Regions from separate parts of the Homo sapiens genome. Here region 1 is linked to region 2. The links come from fine-mapping of genetic effects on gene expression. A gene starts in region 2. The other region holds a variant in brackets. All regions are shown on one strand. Distances are between the middles of the regions. Region 1 overlaps RBP7 (retinol binding protein 7). Region 2 holds the start of LZIC (leucine zipper and CTNNBIP1 domain containing).

What was found.
Region 1: its variant is fine-mapped to the expression of LZIC in monocytes (Quach 2016, PIP 0.95).

Annotation. Positions count from the first base shown.
Region 1 is chr1:10,008,995-10,024,674 of GRCh38, reverse strand. RBP7 (retinol binding protein 7) reads right to left here. Exons shown (of 4, transcript NM_052960.3): 4 at 8,654-8,893. The coding sequence ends at 8,843. Among named protein-coding and RNA genes, the nearest start is that of UBE4B, 16 kb to the left of the region's middle. The variant G/TG (reference allele first, on the strand shown) is at 9,227.
Region 2 is chr1:9,933,958-9,949,637 of GRCh38, reverse strand. It overlaps LZIC (leucine zipper and CTNNBIP1 domain containing), which reads left to right and starts at 6,247. Exons shown (of 8, transcript NM_032368.5): 1 at 6,247-6,389; 2 at 6,856-7,014; 3 at 13,011-13,119; 4 at 14,011-14,146; 5 at 14,778-14,876. The coding sequence starts at 13,019. NMNAT1 (nicotinamide nucleotide adenylyltransferase 1) reads right to left here and starts at 6,163. Exons shown (of 5, transcript NM_022787.4): 1 at 6,123-6,163. It also overlaps the pseudogene RN7SKP269. RefSeq lists enhancers at 6,078-6,647, 5,915-7,114, 6,648-7,218, 9,813-10,313, 10,314-10,814.

The DNA.
Region 1 (15,680 bases), 75 kb before region 2:
CCTTCATCTGGACTCTGGATTCCTTTCTCTCCTTTCTCTCTCACCTTCTCAAGGACTTTGGTCCAGCATTTATCCCCTCTCATCTGCAACATCACACTCTTCTCACTGGACACACCTGTGGTAGGAACACAAACTTTCTTTCATTTATGTACTTGTTTGTTTGTTTGAGATAGGGGTTTGTTCTGTAATCAGGGCTGGAGTATACTGGCATGGTCACTGGCTCACTGCAGCCCCGACCTCCTGGGCCCAAGTAATCCTCCCACCTCAGCTTCCTGAGTAGCTGAGACTACAGGCATGAACCATCACACCCAACTAATTTTTGTATTTTTTGTAGAGACAGGGTCTCCCTATGTTGCCCAGGCTGGTCTCAAACACCTGGCCTCAAGCGATCCTCCTACATCAGCCTCCCAAAGTGCTGGGATTACAAGTGTGATCTTTAAACACATACTAACTTGGTCAGGCGAGGTGGCTCGCACCTGTAATCCCAGCACTTTTGGAGGTTGAGGCAGGTGGATCACGTGATGTCGGGAGTTCGAGACCAGCCTGACCAATATGGAGAAACTCTGTCTCTACTAAAAATACAAAATTAGCCAAGCATGGTGGTGCATGCTTGTAGTCCCAGCTACTCAGGAGGCTGAGGCAGGAGAATCGCTTGAACCCGGGAGGCAGAGGTCGTGGTGAACCAAGATCACGCCATTGCACTCCAGCCTGGGTAACAAGAGTGAAACTCCGCCTCAAAAAAAAAACAAAAACAAAAACAAGTACAACAAAAAACATACTAATTTTAGGCCGGGCGTGGTGGCTCACGCCTGTAATCCCAGCACTTTGGGAGGCCGAGGCCGGCAGATCACGAGGTCAGGAGATCGAGACCATCCTGGCTAACATGGTGAAACCCCGTCTCTACTAAAATAAAAAAATTAGCCCGGCGTGGTGGCAGGCGCCTGTAGTCCCAGCTACTCGGGAGGCTGAGGCAGGAGAATGGTGTGAACCTGGGAGGTGGAGCTTGCAGTGAGCCGAGATCACGCCACTGCACTCCAGCCTGGGCAACAGAGCAAGACTCCGTCTCAAAAAAAAAAAAAATACTAATTTTAAAAACTCTGTAGCCAGCCTACAGTATTATGTTATAGCAGCCTGAACAGATTAAGAGAGGGAAGGGTCCAGGCTCAGTGGCTCACGCCTGTAATCTTTATGTTGCCCAGGCTGGTCTCAAACCCCTGGCTTCAAGTGATCCTCCTACATCAGCCTCCCAAAGTGCTAGGATTACAAGTGTGATCTTTAAACACATACTAACTTGGCTGGGTGAGGTGGCTCACGCCTGTAATCCCAGCACTTTGGGAGGCTGAGGCAGACAGATCACGAGGTCAGGAGATCAAGACCATCCTGGCCGACATGGTGAAACCCCGTCCCTACTAAAAATGCAAAAATTAGCCGGGCATGATGGCATGTGCCCGTAGTCCCAGCTACTCAGGAGGCCAAGGCAAGAGAATCGCTTGAACCCGGGAGGCAGAGGTTGCAGTGAGCCGAGATCATGCCACTATACTCCAGCCTGGGCAACAGAGCGAGACTCTGTCTCAAAAAAAAAGGAGTTGAGATCAGCCTGGGCAACATGGTAAAACCCCATCTCTACTAAAAATACAACAATTAGCCAGGTGTGGTGGCGGGCGCCTGTAATCCCAACTACTTGGGAGGCTGGGGCACAAGAATCCCTTGAACCCTGGAGGCGGAGGTTGCAGTGAGCCAAGATTGCACCACTGCACTTCAGCCTGGGTGACGGAGCGAAACTCCATTACAAAAAAAAAAAAGACTGTTTTGCAAACTCTCCTAAAGATTGCACCCAGAAGTTATAATGAAATCCTTATGAGCAGGTCGAGGAAATATCAAAAGCAAAACTCTTATCTGTGGAGAACCGAAGACTCTTAAGGGCAAGAAACTGAGGGAAAATAATCTGCTACAAAAGGTCTCAGGAAATAAAGATTCTTGCTGTGGACAGAAACAAAGAGAATATTAAAAAGTATTCATTATAGGCCAGGCACAGTGGCTCACGCCTGTAATTCCAGCACTTTGGGAGGCTGAGGCAGGTGGATCATGAGGTCAGGAGTTCGAGACCAGCCTGGCCAACATAGTGAAACCCCCATCTCTACTAAATACACAAAAATTAGCCGGGCGTGGTGGCCCATGCCTGTAATTCCAGCTACTCAGGAGGCTGAGACAGGAGAATCGCTTGAGCCTGGGAGGCGGAGGTTGCAGTGAGCCAAGATCACGCCATTGCACTCCAGCCTGGGTGACAAGAGCAAGACTCCATCTCAAAAAATAAAGTATTCATTATAAATATATTGACTGAATTTCACTGTCTGAGACTCCATATGAAAAGGCTAGGCCGGGTGCAGCGGCTCATACCTATAATCTCAGGACTTTGGGAGGCCGAGGCAGATGGATTGTATTAGAAACGGCAACCAAGAGACATATTAATTCATTTTTAAGATAAGCCTATTACATGCAGAGTGGCCTTGTTTGACATTTTTGCAAATCTCTTTAATGTCTGGCTTAATAGAAGACAGCTGAATTCTCAGATGTACTTCTGGGTCAGGTCAGTTGTGATGTGGCCTGGCAGGAAGTCTCTGGAAAACTCCCATATGCTCATGAGAGAGAGAGAATGAAGAGCAAATATCATCTCAGGATTATTATGAAAATAGCTTTGATCTCACAGATACCCTTAAAAGGTCTCGGGATCCCCGGGTCCTCAGATCACGGTTTGAGAACACTGTCCATTGGGGGCATAATCCATTTGCCATCAGTTTGTCACATACCTCCAGCAGGCCAAGGTGGGCAGATCACCTGAGGTCAGGAGTTCGAGACCAGCCTTGCCAACATGGTGAAACCCCCTGTCTACTCAAAATGCAAAAATTAGCTGCGCGTGGTGGCAAGTGCCTGTAATCCCAGCTACTTGGGAAGCTGAGGCAGGAGAATCCCTTGAACCCAGGAGACAGAGGTTGCAGTGAGCTGAGATTGTGCCACTCCACTCCACCCTGGGTGACAGAAAGAGACTCTGTCTCAAACAGAAATAGAAAAAAAAGAAAAAGAAAAAGAAAAGCCTATAAAATAATAGTTGTCAGCACATGGTCTCTAGGGAACTTTTTGGAGTGATTGACTTGTTCTGAAACTGGATTGTAGGAATGGTTGTACACCTATGTACATTTACTAGAAATTATCAAATTGTACACTTAGGTGCATTTTATGGTACATAAAATATACCTCAATAAAGCCATTAAAGAAAAACAACTCAAGTCCAACAGAGTCCAAAAGTAAAAAAAGAAAAAGAAAAACTCCAAGAGTCATATTCCAAAAAATTAAATTTTTATTACAAGGGGCCACACTTGTAATCCGAGCATTTTGGTAGGCTGAGGTGGGTGGATCACTTGAGGCCAGGAGTTGGAGACCAGCCCAACCAACATGGCGAAACAAAAATACAAAAATACTAAAAATACAAAAATTAGCTGGCCATGGTGGTGGTGCACACTTGTAATCCCAGCTACTAGGGAGGCTGAGGCAGGAGAATCACTTAAACCCGGGAGGTGGAGGTTGCAGTGAGCGGAGATTGCACCACTGCACTCCAGCCTGGATGACAGAGTGAGACTCTGTCTCAAAAAATATATATATATTAAAGCAGAATTGAAATGCTATTTCTCCTCCTCTTCCTCTCCTCCCTTCCTCTCCCTTTTTCCCCCCCTTTAAGGGCATCCAAAGTATGTGGATCATGGAAGTGCCTGCTTTGAAGATCTTTCTTTGCTAAGGATGAAGCTTCCAAGCTGGTTGTGCTGAAGGGCCAACATCTGGTAGTAATTTCATGAAAGGATTTTTTTTTTTTTGAGATGGAGTTTCACTCTTGTTGCCCAGGCTGGAGTGCAATGGCATGGCGCTATCTCTGCTCACTGCAACCTCTGCCTCCCGGGTTCAAGCAATCCTCCCCCCTCAGCCTCCTGAGTAGCTGGGATTACAGGAATCTGCCACTTTGCCCGGCTTTTGGTATGACCTAGAAACTTGTTTTTTGTTACAATACTTCTCAGTGTCAGAATAATATATATTGAATTCATCACTCATTTTTATGGTTGTTTCATATTCTCAGGACCTAGTAATAATAATAATAGTGAACTTCCAGGAATATATACTGAACCGAATTCAATCTAAGCAATTATGATTAAATACTTGTAAAAGTTAACTATAGTAAACCTCAGAGAAGATAGCCTCTTGCTTTTTTTTTTTTTTCATAGAGATAGGGTTTTGCTCTGTTGCCCAGGATGAAGTGGAATGGTGCGATCATGGCTCACTGTTGCAACCTTGAGCTCCTCAGACTACAGGGATGTGTCACCATGCGTGGCCAGCCCCCTGAGACAGGGTCTTGCTCTGTTGTCCAGTCTGGAGTGCACTGGCACAATCTTGGCTCACTGCAGCCTCAACTTCCTGGCTTAAGCTATCCCCTCACCTCAGCCTCTGGAGTAGCTGGGACTACAGGCATGGACCACCACACCCAACTAATTTTCTATTTTTTGTAGAGACGGGGTCTCAGTATGTTGTTCAGGCTGGTCTCCAACTCCTGGGCTCAAGGGATCCTCCTGCCTCAGCCTCCCAAAATGCTAGGATTACAGGTGTGAGCCACCATGCCCAGCTACCTCTTGTATTTTGAAATGACAAAAAGACCTTTTACATATTATATTTTCTCACTTGTTTTGTTCTACCATTCCTAAATGTCTTTCCAAACTGTAGTTTGTATCATGTAGTAAAGTTTAATGAAATATATATTTGGTCTTTTTCCCTGGTTCTGGCACAGGGCTCCTAAATTCCTTGGAATTTCCTGAGTGATAGGATTGTCTTTTGCTATTCATAAGGAGCCCCTTTAGAACACACCAGAGTCTATGCTAATGATGTGACTCAGGGTTGGGGCTGCTCACCAGAAAGACCAAATTAGAGGACTTTGATTAGAGGGTGGAAACAGCCCCACCCCAACCTCCTGGGAGGGAAGGGGGCTGGAGATGGAGCTCTATGAAAACTCCTGAACAAGGAGGTTCAGTGAGCTTCAGTACCAGTGGAGGGTGTCCAGGTTTTTGGCATTTTGAACAAAGAATTTAACAAGGGCCAGGTGCGGTGGCTCACGCCTGTAATCCCAGCACTTTGGGAGGCCGAGGCGGGCAGATCACGAGGTCAGGAGATTGAGACCATCCTGGCTAACATAGTGAAACACTGTCTCTACTAAAAATACAAAAAATTAGCCGGGCGTGGTGGCGGGTGCCTGTAGTCCCAGCTACTCGGGAGGCTGAGGCAGGAGAATGGCATGAACCTGGGAGGCAGAGGTTGCAGTGAGCCGAGATCACGCCACTGTACTCCAGCCTGGGTGACAGAGCAAGACTCCATCAAAAAAAAAAAAAAAAAAAAAGAGTTTAAGAAAACACACAACCAAGAAAAAAATGAAACAACAAAAGCAGAGAGTTATTGAAAATGAAAGTACATTTCACCAGGTGGGAGCGGGCCCCAGCAGCCACTCAAGGGCCCTGGATACAGAATTTTCTCCAGTCCAAATACCCACTAGAGGTTTCCCATTGGCCACTGGGTGTTCACCCATGTAAATGAGGTGAAGTAGTGGCCTGTAATCAGTCCGATTGGTTGCGGAAAGCAGAGGTGGGCGGATGATGAGGTCAAGAGATGGAGACCATCCTGGCCAACATGGTAAAACCCCGTCTCTACTAAAAATACAAAAATTAGCTGGGCGTGGTGGGTGCTAATGCTAATGCATTATAATTAGTGTATGATGAGCAGTGAGGAAGACCAGAGGCCACTCTCATCACCATCTTGGTTTTGGTGGGTTTTCCTGGCTTCTTTACCACAACCTGTTTTATTAGCAAGGTCTTTGTGACCTGTGTCTTGTGCTGTCCTCCTATCTCATCCTGTGACTAAGAATGCCTTAACCTTCTGGGAATGCAGCCCAGTAAGTGTGGGGGAATCACCTGAACGCAGGAGGTGGAGGTTGCAGCAAGCCGAGATGGTGCCACTGCACTCCAGCCTGGGCAACAGAGAGAGACTCTGTCTCAAAAAAAAAAAAAGGCAATTAATTAATTAATTAGAGGTACTTACAATTTCCCATCTGCCACAGAAAAGGTAGGGGTTTGCAAAGGGGTAGCCTCTGGTCCTTTTGTTACTTAGGCTTGGAAAGTTAGGATTTTCTTTTCAATTTAGTTCTAGGAAGTCAGCCCAAAACAGCCTTAGGTTCCCTGCCTCCAGACCCTGGTCTCCTGCCTCAAACATATCCACGCACTGCAAGGGTGGTGCACCTGCAGAGGGCAAGGAAGCTCCGCAGCCCCCCACTAAACCTTGTCCCATGCATCTCCTCCATTTGGCTGTTCCTGAGTTGTATTCTTTTTTTTCCTTTTCTTATTTATTATTTTTTTTTTTGAGACGGAGTCTCGCTGTGTCGCCAGGCTGGAGTGCAGTGGCGTGATCTAGGCTCACTGCAACCTCCACCTCCTGGGTTCAAGCAATTCTCCTGCCTCAGCCTCCTGAGTAGCTGGGACTACAGGCGCCCACCACCATGTCCAGCTAATTTTTGTATTTTTAGTAGAGACGGGGTTTCACCATGTTGGCCAGGATGGTCTGGATCTCTTGACCTTCTGATCCACCCGCCTCAGCCTCCCAAAGGGCTGAGATTACAGGTGTGAGCCACCGCTCCTGGCCAGAGGAAGAAATTCTTACCAGCCAAGTTTCTGGTCTCTCTCTCTCTGTATATGTTGTGTAAACGGTAAATGCCACTATTTGTCTTCTCTGCGAGGGTCTGATTAGTAGAAAAAAAGGATTTGTCAGACCAGTCTTAGGCTGTAGCAAATCTGGTGTACTTTATGCTAAGAATTTGTCTTTCTTTGTTGTTCTGTAATGAAGAGGGGAGTATCAGGGGATAGAACGTGGGTTTAGGATGCCTATAAGCCAAGTTTTCAAGCCAGCCCATCAGGCTGGTCATTTACAAATGTTGCTATGGGTCCCTGAAACCAATGCCAAATGACATTTCTCTGCCTTGTTTTGTGTCCATAAGAGCTTAACCTTGTGGCCATGTGGGGATACTTTATCTTGGTTTCTGCCATCTAGAGGACAGGAATTTTGGGGTTCATGTCATAGTTAGCCCTAAAAATTATCTTGAGCAGGCCGGTCGCGGTGGCTCACACCTGTAATCCCAGCACTTTGGAAGGCCGAGGCGGGTGGGTCATGAGGTCAGCAGATCAAGACCATCCTGGCTAATATGGTGAAACCCTATCTCTACTAAAAATACAAAAAAATTGGCCAGGCGTGGTGGTGGGTGCCTGTAGTCCCAGCTACTCGGGAGGCTGAGGCAGGAGAATGGCGTGAACCCGGGAGGCGGAGCTTGCAGTGAGCCAAGATCACGCCACTGCACTCCAGCCTGGGCAACACAGCAAGACTCTGTCTCAAAAAAAAAAAATTATCTTGAGCAGTTAAGAGCCTTTGAAATCTTGAATTTGGCTAGACTTCTTCTGGGAATAGCAATAGAAACTGCCCAGGGCTGGGTGCGGTGGCTCATCCCTGTAATCCCAGCACTTTGGGAGGCCAAGGTGGGTGGATCACAAGGTCAAGAGATCGAGACCATCCTGGCCAACCTGGTGAAACCCATCTCTACTAAAAATACAAAAATTAGCTGGGCGTGGTGTCACACACCTGTAGTCCCAGCTACTCAGGAGGCTGAGGCAGGAGAATCACTTGAACCCAGGAGGCAGAGGTTGCAGTGATCCGAGTCTGTGCCACTGCACTCCAGCCTGGCAACAGAGTGAGACTCCGTCAAAAAAAAGAAAAAAAAAAGAAGGAAACTGCCCAATGCTGTGTAGCTCAGTAGCTAAGGCTTTGTCCTTTGACAAGGGTGATCTGGGTTGAATTCTTGGCTTCTGGAATGATTCCTTTCTGGTTTGTTATTTGTGTAACTTTGCCATTATTAAGGTTATTTTTCCCCCCATAGATAGCTTCTGATTTCCTGTCTTGGATTTTCTTTTCTCTAAGCTACCCTTGGGGAGATTCTAAATGTTGTTTAAAAAAAAAAAAAAAGAGGAACTGCTGGCCAGGCACGGTGGCTTATGCCTGTAATCCCAACACTTTGGGAGGCCAAGGTGGGTGGATCACCTGAGGTCAGGAGTTCGAGACCAGCCTGGCCAACATGGTGAAACCCCATCTCTACTAAAAATACAAAAATTAGCTGAGTGTGGTGGCACATGCCTATAATCCCAGCTACTTGGGAAGATGAGGCAGGAGAATTGCTTGAAGCCAGGAGCCAGAGGTTTCAGTGAGCCGAGATGGAGCCACTGCACTCTAGCCTGGGTGACAGAGCAGGACTCTGTCTCAAAAAAAAAGAAAAGAAAAGAAAAGAAAAGAAACAAAATCACCATCCCAGACCCCTGTCAATATCACCATCTGCCCATCCCTCAAAGTCATCTGCCCCCCACCCCCAGAGCTCTGGTGGCTGTTCAGGTTGCTTGTTTTGGCCAGCTTCCTCACTAGCCTTGAAGGCAGGACTGACAGCTTGTTCACTGGTGTGTCTCTCATGTGCCTAGAAGACTTTCAAATATTTTTTTAAATGCTGGGATTTCCTAAATCGGAAAGGAAAAACTTCAGAGTCATTTGGACAGGTTTATTGAAGCTGAGCAGTTTCCCCATAATCTAGATGACTTCAGGTTACACGCTGTGTGGCTCTCTCCAGCCACGAGTCCTCGTCGCCAAATGGGATAGATAAACGTCTGTTCAGTCTGCAATATAATTTGGCATAAAGCTGCAGCCACAAGTGGGCTCTGCTGCTGGATGTGGATCAGGCTCTCTGGAATGTCTGTTTGCACACTTGACCTTCACAGAACATTTCCTAGGGCGTAAGGAGGAAGGGAAAAAGAAGGATCAGTTTGCATGTGGTCTGTTTTTACTCTCAACACTTATTTTTTATTGTGTTTTAACCCTTTTCTGGAACATGTTTTTTTCTTTTATGAGATGGGGTCTCACTCTGTCGTCCTGGCTAAGTACAGTGGTGAGATCTCGGCTCACTGTAACCTCTGCCTCCCAGGCTCAAGCGATCCTCCCACCTCAGCCCCCAAAGTAGCTGGGACACTGCAGGCACGTGCCATCATGCCCGGCTAATTTTTGTGTTTTTTGTAGGGACAGGGTTGCCACTGCCTAGGCTGGTCTTTTTTTTTTTTTTTTT[G/TG]AGATGGAGTCTCACTCTGTAGCCCAGGCTGGAGTGCAGTGGTGCAATCTTGGCTCACTGCAACCTCTGCCTTTAAGCGGAATTGCCTTCAAGCAATTCTTCTGCCTCGGCCTCCTGAGTAGCTAGGATTACAGGTGTGTGCCACCATGCTCTGCTAATTTTTGTATTTTTAGTAGCGACGGGGTTTCACCATGTTGGCCAGGCTGTTCTTGAACTCCTGACCTCATGATCTGCCCGCCTCAGCCTCCCAAAGTGCTGGGATTACAAGCATGAGCTACTGCGCCTGACCCCTAGGCTGGTCTTGAACTCCTAGCCTCAAATGATTTTCCTGCCTTGCCCTCCGAAAGTGCTAGGATTATAGTTATAAGCCACCACACCTGGCCTACTCTCAACACTTCTGACACCAAAGGTGTGGGTTTTTAAACGCCTGACACCAGTTGTGTGATGTCTTTTCCAGTCCCACTTCTCCAACTCTCTGACACCAACCAAGTGTCCAGTAAGCCAATTTAATTTGGGCACTAACTACCCAGAGTTAGCACAGACTGCATAGGTTAAGGATGCAGTCTCACGAGACTCCCCCCAGCTTCAGACACCTGTCGCAAATTTGGGACCTCCCATATTTCTGACTGACCAGCTACAAATCAGGTTTTCCCACAACCCCTCCTCGGGCTTGATAATTTGCTAGAAGGGCTCACAAAACTCAGAAAGTCCCTTTACTTACTATTACCAGTTTATTATAAAATAAACAACTCAGAAACAGCCTGATGGGGCCGGGCGCACATGCCTGTAATCCCAGCACTTTGAGTGGCCGAGGCGGGCAGATCGCCTGAGATCAGGAGTTCTAGATCAGCCTGGCCAACATGGCAAAACCCTGTCTGTACTAAAAATACAAAAATTAGCCGGGTGTGGTGGTGCATGCCTGTAATCCCACCTACTCAGGACACTTGAGACAGGAGAATTGCTTGAACCCAAGAGGCGGAGGTTGCAGTGAGCCAAGATTGCGCCACTGCACTCCAGCCTGGGCAACAGAGCAAGACTCCATCTCAAAAAAAAAAAAAGAAAAAAGAAAGAAAAGAAAAGAAAAGAAACAGCCTGATGGAAGAGACGCATAGGGCAAAGTAGGAAGGGGGAGCACACAGCCCTCCCAGCACCTCAATGTATTCACCACACACATGAATGTTCACCGTTCAACATGGAAGCTCTCTAAACCCCGTGGTTTAGTTTTTAGTGGATGTTTCAGCACATAGGCATGACTGATTAAGTCAATGGCTATTTGTGATTAGTTCAATCTCCAGCCCCTCTTCCCTCAGGGATGAGGCTGAAAGTTCCAACCCTCTAATCATGCCTTCGATTTTCTGGTGACCATCCCCCATCCTGAAGCTATCTAAGGACCCTCAGTAGACAGTCATGTCGTTAACACACAAAAGATCTTTTTTTTTATTTGGAGACAAGGCCTTACTCCTTTTTTATTTGGAGACAGGGTCTTACTCCTTCGCCCAGGCTGGAATGCAGTGGTGCAGTCATGGCTCACCTTAGCCTCAACTTCCTGGGCCTAAGTAATCCTCCCACCTCAGCCACCCAAGTAGCTGGGACTACAGGCACCCATCACCATGCCCAGCTAATTTTTTTTAATTTTTTGCGACGGAGTCTTGCTCTTGTTGCCCGGGCTGGAGTGCAATGGCGCGATCTCGGCTCACTGCAACCTCCACCTCCTGGGTTCAAGTGATTATCCTGCCTCAGCCTCCTGAGTAGCTGGGACTACAGGTGCCCGCCACCACACCCGGCTAATTTTTGTATTTTTTAGTAGAGACAGCATTTCACCATGTTAGCCAGGCTAGTTTCCAACTCCTAACGTCAGATGATCCACCTGCCCCGACCTTCCAAAATTCTGGGATTACAGGTATGAGCCACTGCCCCCAGCCAATTTTTTGTAGAGACAGAGTCACACTATGCTGCCCAGGCTGGTATTAAACTCCTGGACTCCAGTGATCCTCTTGCCGTGTCCTCCCAAAGTGCTGGGATTACGGAAGTGAACCACCACACCCAGCAACCAAATATTTTTTAATATATCATGGTGGCTGGGCGCGGTGGCTCATGCCTGTAATCCCAGCACTTTGGGAGGCTGAGGGGGGTGGATCACCTGAGGTCAGGAATTTGAGACCAGCCTGACCAGCATGGTGAAACCCTGTCTGTACTAAAAATATAAAAATTAGCTGGGCATGGTAGCGGGCGCCTGTAATCCCAGCTACTTGGGAGGCTGAGGCAGGAGAATCACTTGAACCCAGGAGGAGGAGGTTACAGTGAGCTGAGATCAAGCTACTGCACTCCAGGATGGGCGACAGAGTGAGACTCTGTCTGAAAAAAAAAAAAAAAATCATGGTAAGTAAGAAGCATTCCATGAGTATCCTTAGAACAAAAGTACTTCTGTGCCCTGCATGGGCAGATTTCCAGGGTATGCTAGAGAAGGATGTACACATTTGGTATTTCTCTTTTTTTTTTTTTTTTTTTTGAGACAGTTTCACTCTTGTCATCCAGGCTGGAGTGCCGTGGCGCGATCTTGGCTCTTGGCTCACTGCAACCTCCTCCTCCCAGGTTCAAGTGATTCTCCTGCCTCAGCCTCCCGAGTAGCTGGGATTACAAGTGCCTGCCACCACACCAGGCTAATTTTTGTATTTTTAATAGAGACGGGGTTTCGCCATGCTGGCCAGGCTGGTCTCGAACTCCTGACCTCAGGTGATCCACCTGCCTCGGCCTCTCAAAAGTGCTGGGATTACAGGTGTGAGCCACCATGCCCAGCCTTCCTTTTCTTTTTTTTTTTTTTTAAAGACAGGCTAGTCCTACGTTCCCCAGGCTTGACTCAAACTCCTGGGCTCAAGCAATCTTCCCGCTTTGGCCTATCCAGTAACTGGAACTACAGGCAAGTACCACCACACCCAGCTGTTGTGCATAATTTGAACATTACCTCTTACAAACCAACTAATCTAAATCCTCAAACATATGTATATATTCTTTGAAATTCCATATTACGTATTTGCGAAGGCAAGTTTCTTACTTTGTTTTTTTTTTTGGAGACAGAGTCTTGCTGTATCCCCCAGGCTGGAGTGCAGTGGCATGATCTTGGCTCACTGCAACCTCTGCCTCCCGGGTTCAAGCGATTCTCATGCCTCAGCCTCCTGAGTAGCTGGGATTACAGGTGCCTGCCACAGCCCGGCTAATTTTTTTTTTTTTTTTTTTTTTGAGATGGAGTTTCACTCTTGTTGCCCAGGCTGGAGTGCAATGGTGCAATCTCGGCTCACCGTAACCTCCTCCTCCCAGGTTCAAGTGATTCTCCTGCCTCAGCCTCCTGAGTAGCTGGCATTAGAGGCATGCGCCACCACTCTCAGCTGATTTTTTTTTTAAATATTTTTTAGTAGAGACGGGAGTTTCTCCATGTTGGTCAGGCTGGTCTCAAACTCCCGACCTCAAGTGATCCACCCACCTTGGCCTCCCAAAGTGCTGGGATTACAGGCATGAGCCACTGCGCCCGGCTCCGCCCAGCTAATTTTTGTATTTATAGTAGAGATGGGGTTTCATCATGTTGGCCAGGCTGGTCTCGAACTCCTGACCTCAGGTGATCCGCCTGCCTCAGCTTCCCAAAGTGCTGGGATTACAGGCGTGAACCCGTAATCCCATGCCTGACCTCTTACTTTTTTATCGTCAGAAGAGTGTGAGATTTGTCCATCTAGAATCAAAATATCTTCAAGGCCTTGGTATTCAAAGACTACCCAGACCCAACTTTAAGGACAGTGCTCTAGTTTTGTTCTCATGGGTCTCACCTAGATTTCACACATACAGTGAGGCAAAAAAGCACAGAGCTGAGAGCACACATTCTTGTCAGACCTGTATTTGAATCTTCACCCTACAGTGTGAAAATACGTAATTCACAATCAAAGCTGATGAAACTTTAAATTATTTTGAGTCTTAAAGGAATGTGATTGTGGGACCTGAGTCATGTGAAAGGCCGCTGTAACCTAGACAGCTATAACCTTAATTTCTCTGGTTATAGATTAGCCTTTTTCTTTACCTACACTGTTTTGTAAAAAACTAAAGGGCACCAGAGAAGACTTCCCTCTACTGTTGATCTTAATTACAGACTCACTTCCCTGTTTCTTCTCTCTTTTTTTTTCCCAAAGCAGGTGAACCTCTTCCTTCTCTAATACAAAGACAGATGACTATCACGTTGTCTAAGATGGAATGTTAAATATACTCTTAAGATGACAGCAAGAATGAGGGGGAAGAAAAATAAAATAAAGAATGTTAAATATATTCTTTAAACTGGAAAGAAAAAGGAAAAAACTGAGTGGTAACTAATCAAATTCCTGTAACTCATAAAACAGCTTTGTATAGAAAATGTTGTAATCCTGCGAAATTTCTTTGTTTTCTGTCTGTCGGGTGGCTCACGCTTGTAATCCCAGCACTTTGGGAGGCCAAGGCGGGCAGATCACCTGAGGTCAGGAATTCGAGACCAGCCTGGCCAACATGGCAAAACCATGTCTCTACTAAAAATGCAAAAATTAGCTGGGCATGGCCGGGCATGCTGGCTTACACCTATAATCCCAGCACTTTGGGAGGCCGAGGTGGGCGGATCACCTGAGGTCGGGAGTTCAAGCCCAGCCTGACCAACATGGAGAAACCCCGTCTCTACTGAAAATACAAAATTAGCCAGGCGTGGTGGTGCATGCCTGTAATTCCAGCTACTTGGGAAGGCTGAGGCAGGAAAATCGTTGAACCCGGGAGGTGGAGGTTGTGGTGAGCCGAGATCGCACCATTGTACTCTAGCCTGGGCAACAAGAGCGAAACTCCGTCTCAAAAAAAAAAAAAAAAAATTAGCTGGGCATGGTGGCGGGTGCCTGTAATCCCAGCTACTTGGGAGGCTGAGGCAGGAGAATCCCTTGAACCCAGGAGGTGGAGGTTGCAGGGGGCCGAGATTGCGCCACTGCACTCAAGCCTGGATGACAGAGGGAGACTCTGTCTCAAAAACACAAACAAAAACAGGCCAGGCACAGTGGCTCACGCCTGTAATCCCAGAACTTTGGGAGGCAGAGGCGGGTGGATCACCTGAGGTCAGGGGTTTGAGACCAGCCTGGCCAATATGGTGAAACCCTGTCTCTACTCAAAATACAAAAATTACCCAGGTGTCGTGGCATGCACCTGTAGTCTCAGCTACTTGGGAGGCTGAGACAGGAGAATTGCTTGAACCCAGAAGGCAGAGTTTGCAGCGAGCTGAGATCATGCCACTGCACTCCAGCCTGGGCAACAGAGCAAGACTCCATCTCAAAAACAAAACAAAACAAAACAGGCTGTAAAATAATAGTTGTCAGCACATGGCCTCTAGGGAATGTTTTGGAGTGATTGACTTGTCTGAAACTGGATAATGGGAATGGTTGTACACCTGTATACATTTACTAGAAATTATCAAACTGTACACTTAAAACAGGTGCATTTTTTGGTACATAAAGTATACCTCAATAAAGCCATTAAAGAAAAACACCTCAAGTCCAACAGCTTAAAAGTAAAAGAAGAAAAAGAAAAAGAAAGGAAAAGAAAAACTCCAAGAATTACATTCCAAGAAATTAAATTTTTATTACAAGCGGCCACGCCTGTAATCCCAACACTTTGGGAGGCCCAGGTGGGCTGATCACTTGAGGTCAGGAGTTCGAGACCAGCCTGGCCAATATGGTAAAATCCCGTTTCTGCTAAAAATACAAAAACTAGCTGGGTGTGGTGGTGCATGCCTGTAGTCCCAGCTACTCGGGAGGCTGAGGTGGGAGGATCGCTTGAACCCAGGAGGCAGAGGTTGCAGTGAGCTGAGATCACACCACTGCACTCCAGCGTGGGTGACACTGGGTGACAGAGGGAGAGACTCCATCTCAAAAAAAAAAAAAAAATAAGACATTAACTTTTCAGCTTGGGTGTACTGACCCCATTTCTTTGGAGTCTGTGTTTCCTGGGTGGCCATTCTCATCTTCATGCCTGAATAAACCCTTATTTTGTTTTATTTTTTTTTGAAACGGCCTCTGTCACCAGGCCGTAGGGCAGTGGTGCGATCTTGGCTCACTGCAACCTCCGACTAACTGGTTCTAGCAATTCTCCTGCCTCAGCCTCCCAAGTAGCTGGGATTACAGACATGTGCCACCATGCCCAGCTAATTTTTGTATTTTTAGTAGAGACGGGGTTTCACCATGTTGGCCAGGATGATCTTGATCTCCTGACCTCGTGATCCGCCCACGTCAGCCTCCCAAAGTGCTGGGATTACAGGCGTGAGCCACCTCGCCCAGTCTGAATAAACCCTTTTAAACTGGATTCTGATGCTTCTGACAGCAGCCTTGGGGAATTTCAAAATCCCAATTTATTTGTGAATGGGAAAAATGGCGTCCTTTTCACAGGGTTGTGAAGATTAGATGAGATAATGCAC
Region 2 (15,680 bases):
CTAAAAAAAACAAAAAAATTATATATATACACATACATATATATATATACACACACAAAAATTAGCTGGGCCTCTTGGTGTGTACCTATAATCCTAGCTACTCGGGAGGCTGAGGCAGGAGAATCGCTTGAACCCAGGAGGTGGAGGTTGCAGTGAGCAAAGATTGCACCACTGCACTCCAGCCTGGGTGACAGAGTGAAACTCCATCTCAAAAAAAAAAAAAAAAAGCAGTGGAAGATTTTAGAGTAAAAATAACCACAACCTCCCCCTTATAGATTATAACAATCTTCTGCATCATGACAGCTAATTGTTTTCTAGAGAAAATAGCTAAGTGACCTGCATTGTGTTTTGTCTTTCTCTTTTTTTTTTTTGAGACAGAGTCCTGGTCTGTTGCCCAGGCCGGAGTGCAGTGGTGTGATTTCGGCTCGCTGAAATCTCCGCCTCCAGGGTTCAAGCGATTCTGCCTCAGCCTCCCACGTAGCTGGGATTACAGGTGCCTGCCACCATGCCCGGCTAATTTTTGTATTTTTAGTAGAGATGGGGTTTCACTATGTTGGTCAGGCTGCTCTTGAACACCTGACGTCAGGTGATCCACCTGCCTCGGCCTCCCAAAGTGCTGGGATTACAGGCGTGAGCCACCATGGCCAGCCGTGTTTTGTCTTTTTACTTCAGTGTATATTTAACAATTCCGGGCCAGACACAGTGGCTGACGCCTGTAATCCCAGCATTTTGGGAGGCCAGGTGGGTGAATCACCTGAGGTCAGGAGTTCGAGACCAGCCTGGCCAACATGGTGAAACCCCGTCTCTACTAAAAATACAAAAAATTAGCCAGGCATGGTGGCGGGTGCCTGTACCAGCTACTTAGGAGGCTGAGGCAGGAGAATCACATGAACCCAGGAGGCGGAGGTTGCAGTGAGCTGAGATGGGGCCATTGCACTCCAGCCTAGGCAACAAGAGTAAAACTCTGTCTCAAAAAAAAAAAAAAATTCTGAAGTATTTTTGTTAGGGACTAGTTACTCACAAATGGTCCCAATGTCATTAAGGACTGGATACCACTTCATTTTGAGACAGGGTCTCGCTCTATCACCCAGGCTGGAATACAATGGCACAGTCACTGCAACCTCCACCTCCCGGACTCAAGCCATCCTCCCACCTCAGCCCTTACCCCAAGTAGCTGGGACTACAGGTATGCCCCACCAGACCTGGCTACTCTTTTGTATTTTTTTGTAGAGATAAGGTTTCACTATATTGCCCAGACTGGTCTCGAACTCCTGGGCTCAAGCAATCCGCCCACCTTAACCTCCCAAAGTGTTGGGATTACGAGCATGAGCCACCTCACCTGGCCGACAACTCCATTTCTTGAGAAAAAGAACAGTACTAATGGGCAAGAAGAACGTATTCAGTATAAAATCTCCCAAAGTATCTCTGACAGGCACAGCACCTGAACACATGGAAATGACTGTTCATCTGTTCTCATCTGGAGAGGTTACCTAATATATACCCACTATCCCTTGACGCCACCAACATTTTCGGACCACCTTCCACATCCCAGACACAGCACTAAGTTAGGAATTAGAAATGCGAGCAATCACACAATAAGAATGAAATTCCTTTGAAGTAATTATATTACCATGATTAACAGAAATTATTTAGAAACAACACATTCTCTAGACCTCATCAACCACTGCAGGGCTTTGAGCAGAGGAGTGACATGATCTGACATATTTTTAAGGATCTCTCTAGCAGTTGAAGCTGAAAACAGAATGTAGGGAGAGGCAAGGGTACAAGTGAAGACATAAGATGGGAGGCTACTGCAATAATCCAGGTGACAGGTGATGCTGACCTGGCCCTGATGGTGGTAGCAAAGTGATAAGATGTCACTCAATTCTGGGTGTATTTGGAACATACAGCCAATGTGATTTGCAATGGATGGGATGTGGGCTGTGAAAGAAAGAAAAGTCAAGCATGACTCCAAAAGTTTTTGGCCTAAGCAGCTAAAAGAACAGTATTACCTTTAATTGAGAAGAGAATGATAGTGAAGCATGATGGCGTGTGCCTGTAATCCTAGCTACCTGGGACCTTGAGAGCTTGTTTGGAGGTTCTAGCAGGGGAACGCAGCTACTTATATACCCTTGACCGAAGATTAGTCCTCCTCTATTGGGGATGGTCGTTCTCTTCGACTTGAGTGTGCAGCTTCGGGAGGGATATACATGGAGCAGTGAGGGAGGAAGGAGACACCGGCCTAGCCAGCCAGATCAGCCGGATCAACCCTGGTGATCAACGGGGTGAGAGATGTCACAGCCAGGTTGCCCTCACATCCTACTTGGGAGGCGGAGGTGGGAGGATCACCTAAGTCTAGGAGTTCAAGGCTGCAGTGAACCATGATCACGCCATTGCACTCCAGCCTGGGCGACACAGCAAGACCCTGTCTCCAAAAAAAAGAGAAGAGAAAGATGTCTATGGAGTAGGCTTGAGGGGACTATCAGGAGTTCAGTTTACAGAGAAGTGAAGTTTGAGACATCTATTATATATCCAAGTGGTGACAATAAGTAGGCAAGTGGAGAACAAAGCCAAGTTCAGGGGAGAGGTACAGACATACAACAGACTAGAGATTTGGATGTATCTGCATATAGATGGTGTATTTGTCTGCTTGGGCTGTCATACTAAAATACCACAGACTGGGTGACTTAAACAACAGAAATTTACTTTGTCACCATTCTGGAGACTAGAAGCCCAAGATCAAGGTTTTGGCCAATTTGGTCTCTGGTGGCAGCTCTGTTCCTGTCTTGTACATGGCCACCTTCTTGCTAGTCCTCACATAATCTTTCTTCAGTATGTAAGGGTAAGGGGCAAGCTCTCCATTCACTCTTCTGATAAGGACACTAGTCCTATCGGATCAGGGCCCCACACTTATGACCTCATTTAACCTTAATTATTTCCTTACTCCAAATACAACCACACCTAGAGTGACATCTTTGATTCTAAAAGTTCATGTTCTCACCCATTATGCAAGACTTACAATGGTACAAGCTATTTAAGGCAGACATTTAAAAGAGGCCCAAGTGTTCAGAGAGCCTTTGGCTCCTGGTACTTCTTGTTAGCCACTCAAGTTTCATCTGTCCCAGCATTTTCCCTACCTAGTTGGAGCAACTTGCGTTCTCTGGGCTCCCATCCCAAGACCAAGCTGAAGTGTCCTCAACTCCTCCCGCTGCCAAGGAGCATTTATCTGGTTTCCCAGTGACTCCCAGTCTGGAGGTTACTTTCCCCAGTGCTGTCTCCCATGGTTTCCTACCTAACATCTTATTTCTCTTTCTCCAGTTTCTTCTCTGCCTTCTGTCTGAAGGCTTGTATTCTATTTTTGTTTCAGAATGCATTTCTCTTATGCATTAGAAATGTTTTCATTATCCATTAACTCTAAACAAGAACCTAAAGGCATATAAAAAAACCCTTAGCATAGAACTGCTGAATGACTAAGTCACAGAGAAGAAAAGGCAAATACCTCCACTGCTTCGAAGACTGCACACGCTAAAACTACACAAATGCCAGAACAGAACATTGGATTATCATTATCAAAATTAGGGGAAGGCTGGGTGGGGTGGCTCATGCCTGTAATTCCGGCACTTTGCGGGGCCAAGGTGGGAGGATTACTTGAGCCCAGGAGTTTGAAACCAGCCTGGGCAACATGACAAAACCTCATCTCTACAAAAAATACAAAAACTAGCCGGATGTGGTGGCATGCACCTGAAGTCCCAGCTACTAGGGAGGCTGAGGTGCAAGGATCACTTGAGCCTGAGAGATTAAGGCTGCAGTGAGCCGTGCTCGTGTCACTGTACTCCAGTCTGGGTGACAGGGCAAACAAAAACAAAAATTAAAAAATCAGGGAAAGTACACTGTGAACAAATGTTTATTCAGCAAATTTTTCAAATTATTATTATTATTTTTTTGAGACCGAGTCTCACCCTGTAGCCCAGGCTGAAGAGCACGATCTCGGCTCACTGCAACCTCCGCCTGCCGGGTTCAAGCAATTCTCCTGCCTCAGCCTCCCGAGTAGCTGGAACTACAGGCATACGCCACCATGCACAGCTAATTTTTTGTATTTTTAGTAGAGACAGGGTTTCACCATAGGGGCCAGGCTGGTCTCAAACTCCTGACCTCGTGATCCGCCCACCTCGGCTTCCCAAAGTCCTGGGATTACAGGTGTGAGCCACTACACCCAGCTCAAATAATTTTTTTAAAGTATATTTTCCAGTTTTGTTTTGTATGGCACTGACTCTGTCACTGTGAATTCCATTTTACCCAAAACATTGACACTTCCACACATATTTATGAATCAAAATTGAAAGATAATTGCATTAATAGGTACTTTTATTTTTTTCTTCTTTTGTTTTGTTTTGTTTTGTTTTTTTAAGACGGAGTTGCTCTGTCACCCAGGCTGCAGTGCAGCGTCGTGATCTTGGCTCACTGCAGCATTCACCTCCTGAGTTCAAGCGATTCTCATGCCTCAGCCTCCTGAGTAGCTAAGATTACAGGCATGGACCACCACGCCTGGTTAATTTTTGTATTTTTAGTAGAGATGGGGTTTCACCATGTTGGCCGGGCTGGTTTTGAATTCCTGACCTTAAGTGATCTGCCCGCCTTGGCCTCCCAAAGTGCTGGGATTACAGGCATGAGCCACTGCACCCGGCCGACTTTTGCAAAGGAAATTCTTTGAATCTGAAGTGTCTTGCAAGGTAGAGGCTATTGCAACCATTTCAACTAGTGTGTCAACAGTCTTCTCTAAGGTGGGCTAGAAAAATGGTTTCATATTCAAATTGTAACTCTGAAAAACAACTGATGGTAATAAAGAGATTCCATAATCAGACAGAACTAAGTGAAACAATTAGTTTTGGTAGAGTTCTGTGGTAATCATAGTTAGAAGTTTATCCTGGGTAGCTGAAATATAACTAACTTCAGACTCCAGGCCTGTCGGTGGCTTGTGCCAATCACCACAACACTTTGAGGGGCCAAGGCCAGAGGATCGCTTGAGCCCAGGAGTTCAAGGCTGCAGTGAGCTATGATCACACCACTGCACTCCAGCCTGGGCAACACAGCTCTTGTTTTTTAACAAGACATTGTTACTTAAAAAAAAACTGCCCTGATGAAACAATTCTACCATGAACACTGATGTTGTTCTGTGGACTACTTCAGGAAGATGGACTAAGAACATCATTAAATAGTTCCAACCAGTTTCTGGGTAATTTTATTTTTAATTTTTTGTTATGAGGGTCTTGCTATGTTGCCCAGCCTGGGCTCAAATGATCCTCCCACCGCGGGCTCTCAAAGTGCTGGGTTTACAGGTGTCACACCGCGACAGCCAAGGGTAACTTTTTTTTATTTTTATTTTTGAGATGGAGTCTCGAACTGTCGCCCCGGCTGGAGTGCAATGGCGCGATCTCGGCTCACTGTAACCTCCGCCTCCAGGATTCAAGCGATTCTCCTGCCTCAGCCTCCCGAGTAGCTGAGATTACAGGCGCCCACCACCACGCCCAGCTAATTTTTTGTATTTTTAGTAGAGACGGGGTTTCACTATGTTGGCCAGGCTGGTCTCGAACTCCTGACCTCGTGATCCGCCTGCCTCGGCCTCCCAAAGTGCTGGGATTACAGGCGTGAGCCACCGCGCCCGTCCAAGGGTAACTTTTTAAGAGCTGCCCTACAGCTCATTACCTCCTTCTCAAGGAGCATGAGTGTCAAACCACCTCCAGCAAAGTAGATGTAGTCTTTTACAGATTTGGAAAGAAGGATTTAGGAGGAAAGGGAAGTCGTTCGGAATGAAGGATTTCCTCCTCTGACGCCCAGCCGTCCCCCGTTAAGCCTAAAGGTGCCAGACCTCAAGACTCTTCTAGAAAGAGATTTTTCCTTTCCAAGGTGAATCCATCTGTTCCGAAGGTCAGAAGCTATTTTACCGAAGTTTTCCGTTCCACTGAAAAAATTAAGGGTCAATCAAAGCTCCTTGCCCCAAACCTGAATATGAGCTTGCCTCGGGTCATATTCGACTCTAAAGACTCCACCACACCATCCTGGACTCCCCTATATCTAGGACAAAAAGCGACCAGTTTCTCAGGGGCTCCTTGCGGGGAGCTTACCGCGCCCTCACTGTCCGCCGGCCCGAGTGCTACCGGAGATCACCAGCGGCCCGGACGCCAGCGAGTGGAACATCTCGGTCGCACTCTCATTGGTTCCAGGGGGCCGGAAGTGCGTGCGTCCAGCGGAAGTGCTCCCCCGGCGCGGTCCGCCAGGCCAGTGCCCTCAGGTAGGCGGGGCCCCTGGCCCTAAACTCTGGGACTGGCGGGCGGTCAGGCGGCACAGGGGGAATCCCGGGGGCCTAAGGAGGTTGTCCCAGTTTTTGTCAGGTAGGCCCGGAAGGAGTTTCGGGGACCATGGGTTTACGGCTACCTCTGGTGGCAATTGGGGCCTGTTGGAGCCCGGCCGCCGCGGGACCTACGTGCCGGACTTCAAGTTCCCGCGTGGGGTGGGATTTGCTGCGGTGGCCGGAGCTGATTCTTCACCCAGTCCTGTTGGTTCTGGGCCAAACCCTCCTCACTTTCAAGGAAGAGGCGTGCTCTCCGCCCTTACCTTTTCCAAGCCTCTGGGTTTGACGCCATCCCTCAAGGCGTGTCCGGATGCGGGATTTTCCTCAAAGACCCTCTCGGCCTCGCTAGGAAGAAACTCAGAAAGGCTGCGGTAGGCGCAGTCGAGGGGGAAAGTGCCCCCGCCCTTGATGTCTCAGGCTGCTCAAGTGGAAGTTATCTGGACTGCCTTAGGGCAAGTTTATATATAGCAAATAAAATTACTTGTTAATGGTTTCCTTTTTTCCAGCATCTCCACCCCGAGGTGGTTTGAACTTTGAGCCTTTTGTAGTCCTGATGAATAATTTCATTTTCCTCAAGTTTATGACACTCGGAACGTCAAGAACTGGAGGTTTGTGCAATTTGAGACCGGTCGGCACTGTGCAGAGATCAGAGTACTAAGAGACAGGTGAGCATGAATGAGGACCCTCCGCTCCAGATATAGTGTCTGAGAGCGGTTTCTGTAGTTTCGTAAAAGTGAAAAGTGCACCACATTTAGTGACTACTAGGTGGTGCCAACGAGTTAATCTTTCGGGGATAAATCTCAACTAATGTAGTACCAGGTTAAGGCTTTTAAAATGCACCCATTTTTACTGAAATGTATTCAGAATAGCTTTAGCTCCTTAAAATATGTTGAGCCTTTATATACGTGACCAAATTATCGACGTTCTATTCTGTATTAGGTACTGAGAAAGCTGAGAGAGGAATCAGACTCATATTCTGTTCTCCAGAGTTTAGTCAGAGGAGATAACGTATTATAATAAAATCATATATAATTAAAGGCAGAAATAAGTGCTAAATAGAGAATAAGATTTGAGCTGGGCGCGGTGACTCACGCCTGTAATCCCATCACTTTGGGAGACTGAGGCAAGTGGATCACCAGAGGTCAGGAGTTCAAGACTCGCCTGGACAACATGGTGAAACCCCATCTCTACTAAAAATACAAAAATTAGCCAGATGTGGTGACGCATGCCTGTAGTCCCAGCTACTGGAGAGGCTGAGGCAGGAGAATTGCTTGAACCCAGGAGGCTGAGGTTGCAGTGAGCCGAGATCGCGCCACTGCACTCCATCCTGGACGACAGAGCGAGACTCCGTCTCAAAAAAAATTTTAAAAAAAAAGATTTGAATGCTAAAGAAGAAGCAATCAATTCTCATTATTCATCTACCAGTTGTTTATTCGGCACTTTTTGTCTGTCCAAGATTGTGCTGGATGCTGGTGTATAAAGAAAAGGTAAAGGCCGGGTGCGGTGGCTCACGCCTGTAATCCCAGCACTTTGGGAGGCCGAGGCAGGCAGATCACGAGGGCAAGAGATCGAGACCATCCTGGCCAATATGGTGAAACCCGTCTCTCCTAAAAATACAAAAATTAGCTGGGCGTGGTAGTGCGTGCCTGTAATCCCAGCTACTTGGGAGGCCGAGGCAGGAGAATCTCTTCAACCTGGGAAGCGGAGGTTGCAGTGAGCCGAGATCGTGCCACTGCACTCCAGCCTGGCGACAGAGTGAGACTCCATCTCAAAAAAAAAAAAAAAAAAGGTAAAGGCTAGGCACGATAGCTTACACCTGTAATCCCAGCATTTTGGGAGGCTGAGGCAGGCGGATCACCTGAGGTCAGGAGTTTGAGACCAGCCTGGCCAACATGGTGAAACCTCATCTCTACTAAAAGTACAAAAATCAGCTGAGCGTGGTGGCGGGCACCTACATTCCCAGCTACTCGGGAGACCGAGGCAGGAGAGTCACTTGAACCCAGGAGGCAGAGGTTGCAGTGAACCAAGATCATGCCACTGCACTCCACCTGGGTGACCGTGAGACGCCATCAAAAAAAAAAGAAAGAGGAAAGAAAGAACGAACGAACGAAAGAAAGAAAAGGTAAAATCCCTACTTAAATAATTCACAACCTAGTGATTGGGAGGAAATCAAGGAAGACCTTGTAGAGAAGGTGACACTTGAACTAGACTTTGAAGAATGAACTGGGCTTCATAGGTAGAAAAAAAAATGCAGGCTCAAAAAAGTGCATGACATTTTTGGAACAGCAAGTCATCCAGTGTGGTTAGACTGTAGGAAACTAACTCTGAAAAGACATTGTCAGTTACATCTTGGGTTTGCCTTGACTTTTACTGGAAAATTCCACAGACTTAAGAGAAAAATTAAAATGGACAATTTCCAGGAAAAATCCACTAAACTATTATACATAAGATGTAGCTACAATAAATTACACTTCTGGGTATAATACTTGTTTATGTTTGCATATCATTAATGATCATAGATGACTTATGCCAATTTTAATAGATTAGGTAGTAATTTTTTGTCATTATATTTAATTTTGAATATACTGTAAGAATCCTCTCCAATGAAGTACACATGTCAAATCATCTGGTAATGATTTCATTATGTGTAGGAAAATAAAACATGCTTTAATGCTGTGTGCGGTGGCTCACGCCTGTAACCCCAGCACTTTGGGAGGCCGAGGCGGGCGGATCACGAGGTCAGGAGATTGAGACCATCCTGGCTAACATGGTGAAACCCTGTCTCTACTAAAAAAAATATACAAAAACTAGGCCGGGTGCAGTGGCTCACGCCTGTAATCCCAGCACTTTGGGAGGCTGAGGTGGGCGGATCACGAGGTCAGGAGATCGAGACCATCCTGGCTAACACGATGAAACCCCGTCTCTACTAAAAAATACAAAAAAAATAAGCTGGGCGTGGTGGCGGGTGCCTATAGTCCTAGCTACTCGGGAGGCTGAGGCAGGAGAATGGTGTGAACCCGGGAGGCGGAGCTTGCAGTGAGCTGAGATTGCTCCACTGCACTCCAGCCTGGGCGACAGAGCAAGACTCTGTCTCAAAACAAACAAAAAACATGTTTTAATAAGTTACCTGGAAAGTTTTGTGGTTTGTTTTTTGTTTTTTGTTTTTTTTTGAGTAGGAGTCTCACTCTGTCTCCCAGGCTGGAGTGCAGTGTCACAATCTCAGCTCACTGCAACCTCTGCCTCCAAGGCTTGGATGATTCTCCCACCTCAGCCCGCCAAGTAGCTGGGACTACAAGCACACACCACCATGCCCAGCTAATATTTTAATTTATTGTAGAGACGGGGTTTCGCCGTGTCGGCCAGGCTGGTCTGTAACTCCTGGTCTCAAGTGATCTGCCTGCCTTAGCCTCCTAAAGTGCTGGGATTACAGGTGTGAGACACCATGCCTGGCCCCAGTCAATAGGATATTTAATGAAACTTGACATACTGATTGTTAAATTCATCTGGAAGAGAAAGTGCACAAGAAGAGCCAAGAATTTTGGGGAGGAGAAAACAATAAAGGCAAGTCATTATCAGTTATCGAGATATATCAGTGATAAAGCCATAATAATGTAAATAGCAAGAAATGTTGCCTGAGGGCTGGACACAGTGGCTCATGCCTGTAATCCCAGCATTTTAGGAGGCCAAGGCCAACATGGCGAAACACTGTCTCTACTAAAAATACCAAAAAAAAAAAAAAAAAAAAAGGCAGATGTGGTGGCACACCTGTAATCCTAGCTACTCAGGAGGCTGAGGCAGGAGAATCACTTGAGCCCAGGATGTGGAGGTTGCAGTGAGCTGAGATCACATCACTGCACTCCAGCCTACTGCACTCCAGCCTGGGTGACAGAGCGATACTCTGTGTCAAAAAAAAAAGAAAAAAAAAAAAGCCAAGTGGGGTGCCTCATGCCTGTAATCCTAGCACTTTGGGAGGCTGGGGTGAGTGGATCATTTGAGGTCAGGAGTTCAAGACCGACCTGGCCAATATGGCAAAACCACATTTCTACTAAAAATACAAAAATTAGCCGGACGTGGTGGCACGCACTCAAGAGGCTGAGGCAGGAGAATTGCTGAAACCCAGGAGGTGGAGGTTGCAGTGAGCCGAAATCGTGCCACCGCACTCCAGTCGGGGCGACAGAGCAAGACTCAGTCTAAAAAAAAAAGAAGTGATTCCTTAGGAACAGAAAATTATCAATGACTAGCCAATTGCCCTAATACCCTTTACTAGTCAGTCTTTTATTTATTAATCAATATGCCACCTTTATTGTAGACCAAATTCTCCTGGATCAATAAATAAAAGACTGATTAGTAAAGGGTGTTTTTGAAAGGAAAGTTAGACCCCTACTTCAAAGCATAACAAAAAATGTTGCAGGTGGCTTTTGTCTGCAGCTAGAAAACAAAAATTTGTAAAAGTCTTGAATATAAAGATGTATAAATCTTGAGATGGTTAGGGCCTGCCTTCATGGGTCACAAAACGAAGAAGATTTAAAGGAGAAGATAGATTTGTCTATTAAAAAATAATAATTTGCCATGACAAAAAAACATAAAATTTAGTCAGGAGACGAAATAATATTTGCAATTACAAAGGCTTCATTGCTTGATCTTAGGAGGTCAAAGCTGCATGAGCCATGATCATGCCACTGCACTCCAGCCTGGGTGACAGAGCAAGACCCTGTCTCAAAAAAGCCAAAGGCTTTGTATCCATGTTATAAATCAGTAAGAGAAAGATAACCCAGCAGAAAGATGGTCACATTTCCAAAGAAGAAATTCATATTAAAAGATGTTCATCAGCTGGGCTTGTGGGCTTACACCTATAATCCCAGCATTTTGGGAGGCTGAGGTGGGAGGATCTCTTGAGCCCAGTTCAAGACCAGCTTGGGCAACATGGGAGACCCCATCTCTACAAAAAAATAAATTAGCCAGGTGTGGTGGTGTGTGCCTGTGTTTGCAGCTACTCAGGAGGCAGAGGTGGGAAGATGGCTTGAGCTCGAGAGGTTGAGGCTATAGTGAGCTATGATTGTGCCACTGTGCTTCAGCCTAGGCAACAGAGTGAGACCCTATCTCAAAAAAAAGTTCATGCTCACAAGTAATTAGGTCAATATACATAAGACCAATAAGATAATATCTGGAGTGTTTGGGGCTATAATGATTCATTTTATAAAGCAAAGTCACATTTGATCTACATATATATATATATTTCCATTTACCAAATTTGTTTAGAGTAAGATAGACCAATAATGAAGACTTCTAATTAATATGTCAAGTCACATAAAGAGGACTTTCAGGTATTTTTGTGGGGTGTTATTACTATATGAGTTTAAACTTTTATATCTAAATTAAGATTTTCTTTGTTTAACTATCTTTCATATACCTGTAGCTTTTTTTTTTTTTTTTTTTTTTTTGAGTCAGGGTCTCGCTCTGTCAACCAGGCCAGAGTGGAGTGGCAAGATCATGGCTCACTGCAACCTCAAATTCCTGGGCTCAAGCAGTCCTCTCACCTAAGCCTCCTGAGTAGGTGGGACTAGAGGCATCCGCCACCATGCCTAGCTAAGATTGTCTATTCTTTGTAGAGATGAAGTCTCACTATATTGGCCAGGCTGGTCTCGAACTCCTGGGCTCAAGCAATCCTCCCACCTCAGGCTCCCAAAGTGTTGAGATTACAGACATGCGTGAGCCACTGCACCCAGCTGCCTTTTTTTTTTTCTGAAATGTAGTCTCACTCTGTTGCCCAAGCTGGAGTGCAGTGGCGTGATCTCAGCTCACTGCAACCTCTGCCTCCCAGGTTCAAGCAAGCCTGCTGCCTCAGCCTCCCAAATAGCTGGGACTACAGGTAATTTTTTTTTCTTTTTTTTTTTTTGAGCCTGAGTCTTGCTCTGTCGCCCAGGCAGGAGTGCAGTGGCGTGATCTCGGCTCACTGCAAGCTCTGCCTCCCGCGTTCACACCATTCTCCTGCCTCAGCCTCCCAAGTAGCTGGGACTACAGGCGCCTGCCACCACGCCTGCCTAATTTTTTATATTTTTAGGAGAGACGGGGTTTCACCGTGTTAGCCGGGATGGTCTCAATCTCCTGACTTCATGATCCGCCCACCTCAGCCTCCCAAAGTGCTGGGATTACAGGCGTGAGCACCGTGCCTGGCCTTTTTTTCTCTTTAGAGATGGGGTTTCCCCCATGTTGCTCAGGCTGGTCTTGAACTCCTGACCTCAGGTGATCCACCCACCTCGGCTTCCAAAAGTGCTGGGGTTACAGGCGTGAGCCACCACATCCGGCCTTTTTTGTATTTTTAGTAGAGATGGGGTTTCACCATGTTAGCCAGGATGGTCTTGATCTCCTGACCTTGTGATCCACCCGCCTCGGCCTCCCAAAGTGCTGGGATTACAGGCCTGAGCCACCGGCGCCTGGCCGCAGCTGCATATTTTTAATTGCACTAGGGACTGGGTGTGGTGGCTTATGCCTATAATCCCACCTCTTTGGTAGTCCAAGATGGGAGGGTCACTTTAGGCCAGATGTTCCGAGACCAGCCTGGGCAACATAGTGAGACTCTGTCTCTACAAAAAATAAAACTTAAAAAAATTGCACTGGTATGTTAATTTCATATGGTATGTGGGTTTATTGTTTCACATAGAGATTAAAATGGCTTCCAGAGGAAAGACAGAGACAAGCAAATTAAAGCAGAATTTAGAAGAACAGTTGGATAGACTCATGCAACAATTACAAGATCTGGAGGAATGCAGGTAAGAGTTTAATTGTATGTTGTTATGCTGGAAACTGGCGTTTTTTCTGCAGCTAGCTCCGTGGATGCAGGCCCATGTGTGATGATTCTGCATTCCCCTGTAGTGTTCTTTGCAGTGCTTTGTCTATTAGAGAAGTAAACTTATTGCAGGCTTTGGAGTCATAAAGGCTGGGAAATGAAAGTCATTCAGTTAACTACTAAGTGCATGTGAACTTGAGCAAAATACTTACCTTCCTTGAAGTAGAAATAACACCTACTTTGTCTTTAGTATTTAAATCAGTCCTACCTGCTGTCAGGCTAAGAAGGTACTACTTGAACTTCTGGCATGTAGTTTCAGCCTTACCTGCACAAAGGACCACAACAGTTCATTGCAGCTTTTTTTTTTTTTTTTGAGACAGAGTCTTGCTGTATTGCCCAGGCTGGAGTGCAGTGGCGAGATCTCAGCCCACTGCAACTTCTGCTTCCCAAGTTCAAGCGATTCTCCTGCCTCAGCCTCCCGAGTAGCTGGGATTACAGGCATGCACCACCATGCCCGGCTAATTTTGTATTTTTAGTAGAGACGGGGTTTTACCATGTTGGCTAGGCTGGCCTCGAACTCCTGACCTCAGGTGATCTGCCCATCTCAGCCTTCCAAAGTGCTGGGATTACAGGTGTGAGCTACGGCACCCTGCTTTATTATGTGGTTTCTTAAGTATCCTCATTTTGGTAAAAGAAAAATGTTTACCAAAGTAACTATATTGCAGGAAAATGCCCTCACTACTACTATGTGAACACATTCACCATCAGCATTTTGATATTTCCCTTCAGTCTTTCTCTAATGTACAAGTATTAAGATTGCATTTTTCACTTGGAACTCTTCATTTTTCCATATCATGATGTTCACCTATTTCAGAGAGGAACTTGATACAGATGAATATGAAGAAACCAAAAAGGAAACTCTGGAGCAACTAAGTGAATTTAATGATTCACTAAAGAAAATTATGTCTGGAAATATGACTTTGGTAGATGAACTAAGTGGAATGCAGCTGGTAAGTATAACATATAGGCGACAGAGGACAGACTTTGTTTTTTTGTTTGTTCTTGTTTTTGTTTGAGATGCATTCTTACTCTGTCGCCCAGGCTGGAGTGCAGTGGGGCAGTCTTGGCTCACTGCAACCTCCGCCTCCCAGGTTCAAGCGATTCTCCTTACTCAGCCTCCTGAGGAGCTGGGATTACAGGCATGTGCCACCATACCCAGCTAATTTTGTATTTTTAGTAGAGACGGGGTTTCTCCATGTTGGTCAGGCTGGTCTTGAACTCCCAACCTCAGGTATCTGTCTGCCTCGGCCTCCCAAAGTGCTGGGATTACAAGCGTGAGCCACTGTGCCTGGCCTTTAGTTTTTTTTTTTTAGAGATGGGGTCTTGCTACATTTCCAAGGCTGGTCTCAAACTCATGGGCTCAAGCAATCCTCCTGCCTTGGCCTCCCAAGGTGTAACTTCTAGATGAGTGTCTGTTTATGCATACACAACATATCCTTCCAGATCTTCATTTAGTTGTGTAATTGCTTCCATGACAGGAACCAGTAAACCTTGATAAAAATTAAGGATCCGTCAATCAGTTATTGCAATATCTGATTTGTTGGACTATTTTGGTTAGTTTTTGCCTTCTTGTGTTTCTAGGCTATTCAGGCAGCTATCAGCCAGGCCTTTAAAACCCCAGAGGTCATCAGATTGTTTGCAAAGAAACAACCAGGTCAGCTTCGGACAAGGTTAGCAGAGGTAAAATTTCTTTAAATTGATTTGGTTGCTGTGTGTTTTTCATTTCCTAGGCCAATTCATTATGATATCCTATGGCTTAAAAATTTGCCAGGTGATTTTAGAGCCACAACTAACAATTTTCTGACAAAATTAGTACTTTGAGCAATTATAGTTGATAATGAATGTAGAGCTTTAAACAATATACGGCAGTTTAAATTGCCACTGACCACTTCTACCTGGACTCCACCTTTAATGTTTTACCATTTACTTCTGGAGCTCTAACTTAAAATCACATTGAGAATTAATTAGCAGCATTGCTTGTATGCATGTGTAGCCTATCTCATCTAAGAATTTCAAGTATCTTTGTAAACCTGATACTTCCAGAAGTCTGTTTATAGGCTTGGATGTAATTAAGAGTTACCAAATTATTTGTAAGTATGGGCAATTCAGTAGCATAGTGATTCAGAGCATGGACTTTGGTCAGACTGGCTGGATTTGAATTCCTGCTTCACTACTGAGGTATGTGACAAGTTTTTTATGTTTTTTTTTTTTTTTGAGATGGGGTCTTGTTCTGTTGCCCAGGCTGGAGGGCAGTGGCGCAATCTCGGTTCAGTACAACCTCTGCCTCTGGGTTCAAGTGATTCTCTTGCCTCAGCCTCCTGAGTAGCTGGGACTACAGCAGGCACATGCCACCACGCCTGGCTAATTTTTGTATTTTTAGTAGAAATGGGGTTTACCATGTTGTCAAGGCTGGTCTTGAACTCCTAACCTCAAGTGATCTGCCCGCCTCAGCCTCCCAAAGTGTTGGGATTATAGATGGGAGCC